Regions from separate parts of the Homo sapiens genome. Here region 2 is linked to region 1. Evidence: fine-mapped expression QTL. A gene starts in region 1. The other region holds a variant in brackets. All regions are shown on one strand. Distances are between the middles of the regions. Region 1 holds the start of TRAFD1 (TRAF-type zinc finger domain containing 1). Region 2 has its middle 69 kb from the start of MAPKAPK5-AS1.

Region 1 (4,397 bases):
AGTGAGCCGAGATCACGCCACTGCACTCCAGCCTGGGCGACAGAGCGAGACTCCCTCTCAAAAAAAACAAAAAACAAAAAAGCAAAAAATTAGGTGGGTATGGTGGCACATGCCTGTAATCTCAGCTACTTGGGAGGCTGGGGTGGGAGGCTGAGGTAGTCCCAGCTACTTGGGAGGCTTGAGCCCAGGAGGTCGAGGCTACAGTGAGTGAGTTGTGATCACACCACTGCACTCCAGCCGGGGTGACAGAGTGAGACCCTGTCTCAAAGAAAAAGAAGACCATACTGTGTGCCACTGTGCCCTGGCACTAAAAATACTTTACAAAATAAGGAAATATAGTCTCTGATAAAGCGATTTAGTGGTAGAGAAAAACAATAAGCAAAAAAATACATATAACTTGAGTATTGTGATGGAAAAGTATACTGACAAATAAATGGGGGCGGAATAGAGGCAAATCTACTTTAGGTAGATAAGAGTGGTCAGGGAAGAACTTTCTGGGGAGACGACATTTAAATTAAGAACTGAAGTACAAGAGCCAACCACGAAAAGACAAAGATAGAGGATGGGAATGCGGGGAAATCCATCCAGGCAGTGGGAAGGGCAAAAGGCCTAAAAGCAATGAAAGAGAAAGTAAAGGCAGATCTGGAAGAGCATAATAAAAAAGGGGAATGACTCAAGAAGGTCTTGTCATATCAGACAGAAAGAATATTGGATTCGATTCCAAGCTCAATGGTAAACCACTGAAGGGCTTTAAACTAGGGAATGACATAATTCAAGACACCCATTCTGGGCTGGGCGCAGCAGCTCACGCCTGTAATCCCAGCACTTTGGGAGGGCGAGGTGGGCAGATCACTGGAGGTCTGGGGTTCGAGACCAGCCTGGCCAACATGGCAAAACCAAGTCTCTACTAAAAATACAAAAATTAGTTGGGCGTGGTGACGGGCGCTTGTATCCCAGCTACTCAGGAGGCTGAGGCAAGAGAATCACTTAAACCCAGGAGGCGGAGGCTGCAGTGAGCTGAGATCTCGCCACTGCACTCCAACCTGAACAACAGAAGGTGACTCCATCTCAAAAAAAAAAAAAGATATTCACTCTGATATGAAATGGCAACTAAGGAAGGCTGTCCGACTGATTTCAGGTGTGCTCTATTCCAGCCCACTCTGGCCAACTCTAAGGCCAGAGCTCAGATGTAGCAGGTGCTTGCTTTTCTAGATGCAAGGAGACTGGGGGTAGCCTGCAGGGTCCCCCTCTGGGGGTCAAGGTCTGGCTGGTTCTGCCAGATTTAACCTCTCTGGGCCTCAGATTCTTCAGGCAGAGGACTGACAATACTTCAAAGGGTCAAGGAAACGGGCGAATGCACGGAAGAGTTGAGGCACAGAAAAGTCTTCAAGCTTATAAGGAGCCTGTTGGGGGTCAGCTAGATCTCTCTAGTCCGCAGAGGGGACCGTCCCTCTGCCCGAGGCGGCGGAGCTTCCCCTGCCGGGTCCAGATACCCCAAGGCAGTTTCCAATCGCCCCCGTCCCCAGGAAGGTCGGTGATGGGGAGTGAAGAAGTAAGCGGCTTCTCAAATAATAGCAGTTGCCAAACGCTTACCGGGAAAATCTTTTAATCCCGACTACAATCCTAAGAGGTGAAAGTCTTGGTCCCCACTTTAGAGGCTACGAAAGCGGAAGGCCACCTGAGTTTTCCACAGCACCAGCGGGTCGGAGTGCGAGCTCGGACTCGGGTCCTTCGGCTTCGAGGCCGCATTAGGCCACTCGCGACCCCCCACGCCGGCAGCTCGAGGCTCGGACTCTAGGCCCAGGCCGGCACTGAGCCCAGCTCCGCCCGGGACGCGGTGGTCACAGCGGCGCTGCGAACGACGCCCGCTTCCCGGCTCACCAGACCAACCTAGGCCGCGAAGGGGGCGGCGTCGCCGGGGGCTGCCAAGGCGCCGGTTCCCTGAGGAGAAAGCGCGGCCTCCTCCAGGTGCCTGAGATGCCGCCGCGCGGGCATCCTCTCCTCACAGCCGCGACCCCGGGCCCAGAGACCCCTCGCCCACACACCCCTCCCTTGGGATGCTGGACCCTTCCTAAACTGGAGGCCACAGGGGATCTCCAGCCGCGTGCCGCCGCTACACCTCACCAGGGACGAGAGGAGAAACGCTGAGTTGACACACTAGCTGCAGACACGGAGCCTCCTCTGTCAGACCCCGCACTGAACAACGGCCCTCAGAGCTGCCTCACCACTTCCGCCCATCGCGGAGGAGCGCGCCCATTGGCCAGGGGCGGCTCCAGCTGTCGGCCCATTGGATAACACCGTTGTCGCTCCCAGGGCCCCGCCTTCTGCGCGTCGATTGGCTCCCTGGAGGCCCACGGGGGCGTGTCCCTGGAAGCCCTGGCCCCTGCACATCTGGAACCAGAGGCACGAAGCTGAGCTGTGAGCCTGTTGCTGAGTTTAGCAACTGTCCCCGACACAGGCTAATAATATTTGCATGAATAATTCTGTACAAACATTACTAATATGCTTAATATATTGAGATAATTAATGGTATTTGTTCTTTTCTCATGGGCCGTTAATACTTATTAGTCATTCTTATTGCTATGATAATGCCCTTGTGCAAGACTTCTGCAGATCTGTGACCATATTTTTTGAGCACTTTGCTTTTTTGCAGTGGAAGAATGAGAGCCTGAGATGCAGGTTTGAGAGCTAGTTTCTCCACTTGCTGCCTGAATGGATTCCCTGAGCTTCTCTTACCTCATGTATAATAAAGGAGAGAATAATTATATAAGTATAACCAAGCACATATTACAAACCAACTTATAATTATATAAGTATAACCAAGCACATATTACAAACAATACAGCAATTTAAAATTATGATTCCATTGCAGATTATAATTGCAAAATATGGAGGCCAAGGCGGGTGGATCTCTTGAGCTCAGGAATTAGAGACCAGCCTGGGCAATATAATGAAACCATATCTCTACAAAAAAAATACAAAAATTAGCCAGGCGTGGTGGCACGCACCTGTAGTTCCACCTCCTTGGGAGGCTGAGGTGGAAGGATCCCTCGAGCCCAGGAGGCAGGGCTGGAGTGAGCCCTGATCATGCTACCGCACTCCAGCCTGGGGGACAGAGAAAGACCCCGTCTCAAAAATAATATAATATAATATAATATAATATAATATAATATAATATAATATAATTGCAAAATGTTAATGAGATAGTACTAAGCAAGAAAAGCATCTAACAGGCTGGGCGCGGTGGCTCACGCCTGTAATGCCAACACTTTGGGAGGCAGAGGCTGGTGGATCACCTGAGGTCAGGAGTTCAAGACCAGCCTGGCCAACATGGTGAAACACCGTTTCTACTAAAAATACAAAAATTAGCTGGCCGTGGTGGCAGGCGCCTATGATCCCAGCTACTTGGGAGGCTGAGACAGGAGAATCGCTTGAACCCAGGAGGTGAAGGTTGCAGTGAGCCGAGATTGAGCCACTGCACTCCAGCCTGGGCAACAAAATCAAAACTCCGTCTCAAAGCAATATTTATAACAAGATAAAATATTTAGCTTAAATATGCAATATAACTTGTGTGATTCCAAACATATAAAGTTTAAAACCAGGGAAAATTAACCTAAAGTGAGAGAAGTAAGTAACTGGTTCCATTCAGAGGGTATATAGCCTGTAAGGAGATATGAGAAAGATTTTCTAGAAATGTTTATATCTTGATCAGCAAAGTGATTAACACAGATGGATTAATTAGTAAATAGTTATTAAGCTACACACCTATATCTTAAGCACTTTACATTGTATGTTACATTTTAATAACAAAACTTACTGGAGTTCAAAAGAAAGCACAATCATTAACAGTTAAAAAGCAATCAGAAAAAATGTGTATTAATATGAATTAAGTATATTAATGTATTAAGTATATATAAAGAAAAAAGATAACCATATAGTGTGTTCTTTTATGAATAAGGTGTTTTAACTCAGCATAATGTTTTTGAGGTTTATCCATGCTGTTGATAATATCAAGTCTATTCCTTTTCAGTGCCAAGTAGCATAGCACATGGATATGCCACAATTTATACTGACAAACATTAGAGCTGGTTCTAGTTTTTGGCCAGGCATGGTGGCTCACGCCCACAATCCCAGCACTTCGGCAGGTCAAGGTGGGTGGATCGCCTGAGCTCAGGAGTTCCAGACCAGCCTGGGCAACATAACAAAACCCTGTCTCTACAAAAAATACAAAAATGTAGCCAGGCGTGGTGGCTCATGCGTGTAGTCCCAGCTACTTGGGAGGCTAAGGTGAGAAGATTGCTTGAGCCTGGGAGGCAGAGGTTTCAGCGAGCTGATATGGCACCACTGCACTCCAGCCTGGGTGACAGAGCAAGACTCCATCTCAAAAAAAAAAATTG
Region 2 (4,397 bases), 210 kb after region 1:
GTCCATTATATGGATATACTACATTTTAGTTAATGATAGACATTTGGATTGTTTTCATTTAATGTATAAGTAACATGCTATAAATACTCATGTACAAGTTTTTGTATGGATATGTTTTTGTATTTCTTGGGTATATTATGCATATATGAGTGGAAGTGCTAGGTCATAGGATAACTCTGCATTTATTTAGCATTTTAAGAAACTACCAAGCTTTGATTCAAAGTGGCTGCACCATTTTACATTCACACCAGCAGTGCATGTGGGTTCTAATTTCTCTACATCCAGAATCTGTGTTTTTTATCTTTAACCATTTAGTTCCTAGCATATAAATATTTCTTAAAAGTAAATGTTTAAATTTAAAGAATGAAGTCAATAGGAAAATAAACAAATGAACTGAGGTCAGATTAGTTTGTTGGGTCTTTTTTTTTTTTTTTTTTTTTTTTTGAGACAGGGTCACACTCTGTAACCCAGGCTGGAGTGCAGTGGCACCATCACAGCTCACTATAGCCTTGACTTGGCCTGGGCTCACTGATTCTCCCACCTCAGCTTCCCGAGTAGCTGAGACTACAGGCGCAAGCCACCATGCCTGGGTAATTTTTATATTTTTATATTTTTATATTATATTTTACCATGTTATCGAAGCTGAGCTTGAACTCCTGGATTCAAGCGATCTGCCCCTCAGCCTCCCAAAATACTGGGATTACAGGGGTGTGCCACCACGCCTAGCCTGAAGCCCAGATTTGTATCATTTGCCTGTTTCTGTGGTATAAATACTCCCACCACCATGACATAACAAGATAAGGTGGTGGAGTATACATATATATAGGGGAGAGTTATGGAAGATTTTCTCCCCGTGGCAGAGTAATTATCTGGAGCCATATTACATATACAATGGGGAAGTGATAAAAGACCTCACAGTTTTTTAAAGCTTTATGTCTAAAAGCAGGGTGAAAACATTTTACAGTTGTTCAACATTTTGCATTCTCATTAGTAGAGGAAGACTGCCTTTTTTCTTTTTTGAAAAAATACTTCAGTGATACTTTTGTGCCCCTTTCCCACAGCTTGCCCACAAAAAATGACAAAATTCAAGAATGAAGTTTGGGGGAATAAGAGGCTAAACTGTTTTCAAATTAGTGTAACACTTTGCCTTCATTGTGGGCAGAATTGCACCTATCTGAATTTATGATGGTGTGATCTGGGTTTTCAGTAAATTACTTAAAAAAAAAATTTTCCCTCTCACTGAGCCCAGAGAATGAAATGGAGTATGACCCCAGGTTAGGAGGAATTTCCATCAGACATTCCTAAAAGGACAAGAAAAGATGTCAGGTTGGGGCCAAGGAGAGAGATCACCAATCCAAGTCCCCCAGGGAGGGGCTTGGCCCCTGGGCTCCAGGAACACACATATCTGTAACATCCAAATGTATTTTCTTTCCCATATCGTCATTCCCTTTGTTTAACTCAAGTCTAGATAAAACTAGAGCCTGAACTTGGCGGTGCTTTGGGTAAGTAAAAGAAGGACCTGGTTCTCCACTGGCCTGAGGCAGCACAGAGAAGACAAAAGCGGTCCAGAGAAGGCAGATAAAGGATGGCAAGAAGTCACCAGTCAACACCAGAGTCTCTTGGGGCAGCACCTGGCTGGGTCACAAGTGACTACCAATGACAACACGTAAACATTCCTCATAATTCCCCAACACACTGGGGAGAGGAACCAGGAGAAAGGCTATACTTCCTAGAGGCACAAACACACCATGCAGAACAGACTATTCTCACTCATGCTTAAGGGAACTCTGACTCTTGAACCCAGACATTTAAGATCCCAAGTTCCATGTACCTGCTCATTCATTCCTGCCTCCATTAAAACTCATCCTTCCCTGCCACAGTCTATCCTAAAGGGGTTCAGCCTTATTTGGCTGGAGTTTGGGGTTTATGAACATTCAAAATTTACTTAATGAGCTTTATAAAATTAACAATATTGTATCTGAACAAGATTTTGGATTGTGCAGTGGCTATGGACTGGCAAAAAGCATCCTACCTGGCTGGGC[A/G]CAGTGGCTAATGCTTGTAACCCCAGCACTTTGGGAGGCCAAGGTGGAAGAATCACCTGAGGCCAGGAGTTCAAGACTAGTCTGGGTAACAGAGACCTCCATCTCTAAAAATAAAAATAAAAATACTTAGCACAAGAGGCTGAAGTAGGAGGGTTGCTTGAGCCCAGGAATTTCAGGGCTATGATTGTGCCATTGCACTCCAGCCTGGGCAGTAGAATGAGACCTCATCTCTCTTTTTTAAGAAAATTTTCTCCAAAGCAGTTTATTAATTTTTTTAATTCTAATTTTTGTGGGTACATAGTAGGTATATATATTTATGGGGTACATAAGATGGTTTTATACAGGCGTGTAATGCATAATAATCTCATTATGGAGAACGGGGTATCTGTCCCCTCAAGCATTTATCCTTAGTGTTATAAACAATCCAGTTATACTCGTTTAGTTATTTTAAAATGTACAATTAAATTATTACTGACTATAGTCACCCTGTTGTGCTATCAAATAGTAGGCCTTATTCATTCTTTATTTTTTTTTGTACCCATTAACCATCCCTACCTCCCCCTACCCTCAACTACCCTTCCCAGCCTCTGGTAGCCATCCTTCTATTTTCTATCTCCATGAGTTCAGTTGTTTTAACTTTTAGATCCCACAAATAAGTGAGAACATATGATGTTTGTCTTCTGTGCCTGGCTTATTTTACTTAACATAATGATCTCCAGTTCCATCCATGTTATTGCAAATGATAGGATCTCATTCCTTTTTATGGCCGAATAATACTCTGTTGTGTACATGTACTGCAGCCTCAACTTCTGGGGCCCAGGTGATTCTCCCACCTCAGCCTCCAGAGTAGCTAGGACTATAGGTATATGCCACCACTCCTGGCTAATTTTTTGTATTTTTTATAGAGACACGGTTTTGCCATGTTTCCCAGGCTGGTCTCAAACTCATGTGCTCAAGCAGTTCACCCACCTCAGTCTCCCAAAGTGCTGGGATTACAGGCATGAGCCACCGCACCCAGCCCACATTTTCTTTATCTATTTGTCTGTTGATGGACACTTAGGTTGCCTCCAAATCTTGGCTGTTGTGAACAGTGTTGCTACAAATATGGGAGTGCAGCAGATATCTCTTCAATATACTGATTTCTTTCCTTACCCAGCAGTGAGATTGCTGAGTCATATGGTAGCTCTAGTTTTAGTTCCATAGTGGTTGTACTAATTTACATTCCCACCAAAAGTGTAGAAGGGCTCCCTTTTCTCCACATCCTCGCCAGCATTTGTTATTACCTGTCTTTTGGATATAAGCCATTTTAACTGGGGTGAGATGATATCACATTGTAGTTTTGATTTGCATTTCTCTGATGATTAGTGAACAGTCACCTTTTCATATGCATGTTTGCCATTTGTGTGTCTTTTTTTGAGAAATGTCTATTCAAATCTTTTGCCTATTTGATCAGATTAGATTTTTTCCTATGGAGTTGTTTGAGTTTCTTTTTTTTGAGATGGAGTCTTGCTCTGTCACCCAGGCTGGAGTGCAGTGGCACAATCTCGGCTCACTGCAAACTCCGCCTGCCAGTTCACGCCATTCTTCTGCCTCAGCCTCCTGAGTAGCTGAGACTACAGGCGCCCGTCACCACGCCTGGCTAAATTTTTGTATTTTTAGTAGAGACAGGGTTTCACCGTGTTAGCCAGGATGGTCTCGATCTCCTGACCTCGTGATCCGCCCGCCTCGGCCTCCCAAAGTGCTGGGATTACAGGTGTGAGCCACTGCACCCGGCTTGAGTTTCTTATATACTCTGGTTATTAATGCTTTGTTAGATGGATAGTTTGCAGATGTTTTCTTATATTCTGTGGGTTGTCTCTTCACTTTGTTGATTGTTTCCTTTGCTATGCAGAAGCCTTTTCACTTGATGTGAGCCCATTTGTCCATTTTTACTTTGGTTGCCTGTGTTTGTAGGGTATTACCCAAGAAGTTTTTGCCCAGAGCAATGTCCTGGAGATTTTTCCCCATGTTTTCTTGTAGTTGTTTCATAGTTTAATGTCTTAGATTTAAGTGTTAATCCATTTTGATTTGATTTTTGTATATAGCAAGAGATAGGGGTCTAATTTCAGTCTTCTGCATATGGATATCCAGTTTTCCCAGCACCATCTATTGAAGAGACTGTCTTTTCCTGTTCTTGGCACCTTTGTCAAAAATGAGTTCACTCAGTGTGTGGATTTGTTTCTGGGTTCTCTATTCTGTTCCATTGGTCAATGTGTCTGTTTTTATGCCAGTACCATGCTGGTTTGGTTGCTATAGCTCTGCAGTATAATTTGAAGTCAGGTAATGTGATTCCTCCAGATTTGTTCCTTTTGCTTA

The links. PIP is the estimated chance that this variant, and not a neighbour inherited with it, causes the effect.
Region 2: its variant is the best candidate, but not a certain one, in a credible set for the expression of TRAFD1 in whole blood (INTERVAL, PIP 0.52).

What each region holds. Positions count from the first base shown.
Region 1 is chr12:112,123,346-112,127,742 of GRCh38, reverse strand. TRAFD1 (TRAF-type zinc finger domain containing 1) reads right to left here and starts at 2,183. Exons shown (of 12, transcript NM_006700.3): 1 at 2,125-2,183. RefSeq lists enhancers at 1,657-1,726, 2,137-2,186, 2,164-2,458.
Region 2 is chr12:111,909,603-111,913,999 of GRCh38, reverse strand. No RefSeq gene overlaps it. Among named protein-coding and RNA genes, the nearest start is that of MAPKAPK5-AS1, 69 kb to the right of the region's middle. The variant A/G (reference allele first, on the strand shown) is at 2,043.